2 separate regions of the Homo sapiens genome follow, and region 2 is linked to region 1. Evidence: fine-mapped expression QTL. A gene starts in region 1. The other region holds a variant in brackets. All regions are shown on one strand. Distances are from middle to middle. Region 1 holds the start of LDHA (lactate dehydrogenase A). Region 2 overlaps LDHC (lactate dehydrogenase C).

What was found.
Region 2: its variant is fine-mapped to the expression of LDHA in whole blood (TOPMed, PIP above 0.99).

Annotation. Positions count from the first base shown.
Region 1 is chr11:18,393,405-18,396,424 of GRCh38, forward strand. It overlaps LDHA (lactate dehydrogenase A), which reads left to right and starts at 1,159. Exons shown (of 8, transcript NM_005566.4): 1 at 1,159-1,232. RefSeq lists enhancers at 454-1,118, 765-854, 1,119-1,784, 1,165-1,254, 2,519-3,020 and a silencer at 2,015-2,064.
Region 2 is chr11:18,423,565-18,426,064 of GRCh38, forward strand. All of the region lies in intron 3 of LDHC (lactate dehydrogenase C), which reads left to right. Among named protein-coding and RNA genes, the nearest start is that of LDHC, 12 kb to the left of the region's middle. The variant C/T (reference allele first, on the strand shown) is at 1,277.

The sequences.
Region 1 (3,020 bases):
ATTGAGCTGGGCACGGTGGCTCACGCCTGTAATCCCAGCTCTTTGTGAGGCCGAGGCGGCCAGATCACTTGAGGCCAGGAGTTTGAGATCAGCCTGACCAACATGGTGAAACCCCGTCTCTACTAAAAATTACAAAAATTAGCCGGGCGTGGTGGCGCCTGGCTGTAATCCCATCTTCTCAGGAGGCTGAGGCAGGAGATTCGCTTGAACCCGGGAGGCGGAGGTTGCAGTGAGCCGAGATCAGCCCACTGCACTCCAGCCTGGGCGACAGAGCGACTCCGTTTCAAAAAAAAAAAAATTAATAATTAAAAAAAAAATCGCAGGGCAAGTGGGCGCGCTTGTAGTCCCAGTCACTTCGGGGAGCCGAGGTGGGAGGATCGCTTGAGCCAGAAGGTCGAGGCTGCAGGAAGCCATGATCACGCCACTGCCCTCCAGCCTGGGTGACAGAGTGAGACCCTGTCTCGAAAAATACCAAAAAACAAATAAACAAACAAAAAACCAAAACCAAAAAAACAAGCCACTGACAGTTCTTGGGTATGGTTGAGACTCGAGATGAGATGCCAGTGGGGTGGGCAGTAGAAAGTGCAGAATAAAATGTACATTTGAACTGAGTCACCCTGCAAGGCCTGAGAGGCCAAGGCTTCACTGTGAGTGGGAGCTGGTAGGCTTAGCAGCAGAGGGAAAAGCAGCGTCGAGTTTTGGAGGTCACTCGACTTAGGTAAGAACAGACTGACTGACTGCTAGGCATTTTCTTCCTTTCGTTCAACAAATATTTGTGGAGTGCCTATTACGTGCCAGAAGCTGTTCTGGACACTGAGAAACAGGGATGAAGAAGAAACAGATCCAAGCCTTCCTGAGAGTAACCTCCCCAGGTTTCATGGATGAGGAAACTGAAGGTCGTCCTGACTCAGGCTCATGGCTCCGACCCCGGCTTCTGTGGTTGGAGGGCAGCACCTTACTTAGACTCCCAGCGCACGTGGAGCAGTCTGCCGGTCGGTTGTCTGGCTGCGCGCGCCACCCGGGCCTCTCCAGTGCCCCGCCTGGCTCGGCATCCACCCCCAGCCCGACTCACACGTGGGTTCCCGCACGTCCGCCGGCCCCCCCCGCTGACGTCAGCATAGCTGTTCCACTTAAGGCCCCTCCCGCGCCCAGCTCAGAGTGCTGCAGCCGCTGCCGCCGATTCCGGATCTCATTGCCACGCGCCCCCGACGACCGCCCGACGTGCATTCCCGGTACGGTAGGGCCCTGCGCGCACGGCGCCAGAGGGATGGGCGGGTAGAGCCAACTGCCTCTGGTTCTGCTGGCCTCCGCTGCTCGCGAAGGGATTCCTGCTCCCGGGAGGTGTAGGAGCCGCTTTCCAGAAGCACAGCCCAGAGACGTCTGGGCGGCGGCCCACACAACGCATGTGTTCGGAGCTCGCCGCGCTCTGCTTTTGCTCTAAGCGGGAACCATGGCTTCTGGCCACGCTGGGGAACCGAGGAGGTGGCCGCACCCAAGCAGGGGTCGAAAGCCCGGGTGGATGCGGAACAAGGATATGATAGGCCTTAAGGGTGGGGGATACCTCTGGGCTCGAAATCGGCGGGCGGTGCAAAACTCGAGGTCCAGTTCTCGGAGCCCATAGAGCCAAAAAAGCCTCAGCTTGTCCGGGGCGGGTTCTTGAAAGACGGAAAGCGGCTGAGTACCACGCGGCTTGCATTTTTCTCTTGGGACGCTCGAGAGGTGGGCTCCGTGAGGGCAGCTGCTGCCTGCAGATTATAGGGAGCCCTTTGCGCATTTATTAAGAAGCTACTGGTGTATCTCGGGCTGCGCTAGGCACGGCGCATGCAAAGATGAAGCAGGCAGCATCCCAGCCCTTCCGCACCTCAGACGGTCAGTTGAGTAGGATCCGCCGGTACCAACTCCTCCTTTTAACAAATAGGGAGACCGAAAGCTAGGAGACAGTCAGGGATCTCTAAGTTCCCAGTGAGTAGGAGGCAGAGGTGAGGTGTAGAACTCGTTTTTGCATGTCTCTCGCCTCTAGACGCACCCTTCCCTCATCCCATGCCCTCCCACCTCCGCCCCTACATTAAAGGTAGCATTGGATCCCGGGGCCGTTCAGTGAAGCTAGCAGGTGTCCGCAGGAACTCCCTTCCCCCTGCCAGGCTAGAAACCTTACAAGGCTGTCTAGAAATAGCAGTGATTTGTAAGGAGAGACCCGGCTCCAGCTTGGTGACTCTGGGCTGACTGCCTGCCTAGAGGTCCTCTCGGATTTTTGCCCTTTGGAGTGGTGTCAAAACTAGACGTGATACTTTGGGGATGCAGCCTGTGATATTTCCTCCAGCGAATGCAGTGCAGGGTTGGATTAACAAGGTGGAAAGAATTCGAGGGTTCCACCAAGTAGCTATTAACTCTAGGGCTGCAGGCCTCAGGCCTTCTGCAGCTATTTCTACACTCCCTGTACTGAAACTATTTCTTCATACTGGGCCTGACAGGCCTTTGCAACAAGGATCACGGCCGAAGCCACACCGTGCGCCTCCCTCCCGGTTGGTTAACAGGCCCTGGTTTCTAGTATTGCGATTTAAAGTCTGGCGCTGGCTGCGCGCCAGACCTGGGAGGCTGCCAGCTAGGCTTCACGTTGCTGGCGTCTGCTTCGGGGCATTCATTAGGTCTGAAGTCTGAATCCCAGCTCCCTCCCTCTCACCCACTGAGCTGCATAGCTCCAGATTGCCTCTGCTTACGGGCGGGGCTTCTCAGCCTTCTGCCTTCTGGCCCGATGCCCGCTTCCCAACGGCCGGAGGCCGCTAGACTAATCGGCTTCGCCCTGCGCGCTGTAATGCGCATGCGCACGCGCACAAGTTCCTGGGCCCGCCCATCTTCCGGACTTGGGCGGGGCGTAAAAGCCGGGCGTTCGGAGGACCCAGCAATTAGTCTGATTTCCGCCCACCTTTCCGAGCGGGAAGGAGAGCCACAAAGCGCGCATGCGCGCGGATCACCGCAGGCTCCTGTGCCTTGGGCTTGAGCTTTGTGGCAGTTAATGGCTT
Region 2 (2,500 bases), 30 kb after region 1:
AAAGCCAGGTTGGTTGAAGACTAAAATGTGAAAAGCAAAACTTCAAAATTTCCTTTAGAAGATAACGTAGAATATCCTTATGACCTGAAGGTAGGGACTGATTTAAACACAAAGACACAAAAAGCATAATCAATAAAGAATACAAAGTTAAGAGTGTTCACAAAAATATAATATAAAAGAGCAAAGAGACAAGCCATAAACTGAGAGAAGATATTTGCAGTGTTAACATCTAACAAAGGAATAGTGTTCAGAATAAAAATACTTGTATTAATATAATACCTAAAAAAAATGCACAGCTCAATAGAAAAATGAGAAAAGCCTTCAATAATTTACAAAAGAAGACACTCAAGTGGCTTATAAATAGGGGGAGAAAACTCAATAACCAAGCACAGGAAAATAAAAACCATATCAATATACCATTACACACCCACTAGATTGGTAGAAGTGTGATAGTAAGTGTTTGTGAGGATGTGGAACAATAAGTGCTCTCACACACAGCATATAGGAGTGTAGTAAAACCAGTTAAAAAAACAAGTTTGGCCGGGTGCGGTGGCTCACGCCTGTAATCCAGCACTTTGGGAGGCTGAGGTGGGCGGATCACGAGGTCAGGAGTTTGAGACCAGCCTGACCAACATGGTGAAACCCTGTCTCTACTAAAAATACAAAAATTAGCCGGGCATGGTGGTGCGCGCCTGTAATCCCAGCTACTCAGGAGTCTGAGGCAGGGGAATCGCTTGAACCCAGGAGGTGGAGGTTGCAGTGAGCCTAGATCGCGCCACTGCACTCCAGCCTGGGCCATGGAATGAAACTCTGTCTCAAAAAAAAACAAAAAAACCCCACGAGTTTGTCATTACCTGGTGAAGTTGAACATGAACATATCCCACAACCTGGAAATTACACTTCTAAATATAGTCCCAAGAAAACTTTTGCACATGCGCACTAGGATACATGTACAAGAACGTATTGTAGTAGCCCCAAACTGTAAACAAGTCAATGAATCCCAGTACTAAATTGTAAAATTATGCAGTGTAATATTGCACAGCAGTGAAAATGAAGAAACTACAGGAACACACATTAACATGGATAAATATCAGATACATAATATTTAGTTAAGGGAATACATGCCTTATGATTCAAAAACAGATAAAATGTACTATGTAATGCTGGGCATGGTGGCTGACGCCTGTAATCCTAGCACTTTGGGAGGCCGAGGTGGGCGGATCACTTGAGGTCAGGAGTTCCAGACCAGCCTGGCCACCATGGCGAAACCCTGTCT[C/T]TACTAAAAATACAAAAATTAGCTGGGTGTGGTGGCACGTGCCTGTAATTCCAGCTACTCGGGAGGCTGAGGCAGGAGAATCGCTTGAACCTGGGAGGCGGAAGTTGCAGTCAGCTGAGATCGTGCCACTGTACTCCAGCCTGGGTGATAGAGCCATCTCAAAACAAAACAAAACAAATAAAAAAACAATTAATATGTAATTTAAACATGCATAGGTAGTAAAGCTTTTTTAAAAGTAATGTGATTTTTTGCCAGCCACAAGAGTGGTTGATAGACATAATCTGTTAGAGGCATGCAGGGGCTTCCAAGGTGTTGACAATGTTCTATAAATTTGGGGATTTTTTTTTTTGTTTTGAAAAAGGGTCTTGCTTTGTTGCCCAGGCTAGAGTTCAGGGGTGTGATCATAGCTCACCACAACCTCAAACTCTTGAATTCCTGGGTTCAAGCAGTCCTCCCACCTCAGCCTCCAGAGGACAAATGTGAACTAGATGTTTATTGTGCAGTTTTGGCAGAGTTAATATTTTTAATTTTTTTCATTAAAAAATTATTATATTTTAGAGACTAGGTCTTGCCCTGTTAACCCAGGCTGGAGTGCAGTGGCACGATCTCAGCTCACTGCAATCTCTGCCTCCCAGGTTCAAGTGATTGTCGTGCCTCAGCCTCCCCAGTAGCTGGGATTACAGGTGTGAGCCACTGTGCTTGGCCTTTTGTGTGGTTTTAACAGAGTTGTTTAATGTTTTATAAATTGAGTGTATATTTCTTATATGTTATTGTATATGAAATATTTCACAATAGAACATTTTAAAAATACATTTTGTGCCAGGCGTGGTGGCTCACGCCTGTAATCCCAGTACTTTGGGAGGCTGAGGTGGGTGGATCACAAGGTCAGGAGATCAAGACCATCCTGGCTAACGCGGTGAAACCCCTTCTCTACTAAAAATAAAAAAAAATTAGCCAGGCGTGTTGGCAGGCGCCTGTAGTCCCAGCTACTCAGGAGGGCTGAGGCAGGAGAATGGCATGAACCCAGGAGGCGGAGCTTGCAGTGAGCCGAGATCGCGCCACTGCACTCCAGCCTGGGCAACAGAGCGAGACTCTGTCTCAGAAAAAAAAAGAAAAAAGAAAAAAGAAAATACATATTGTGAGGTCTAATGGGGAAGAGCAATGATGGAACATCGTTGATTAGCCACAATTTTTTTTTTTTTTTACTTTTTAGTTTAGAGATGG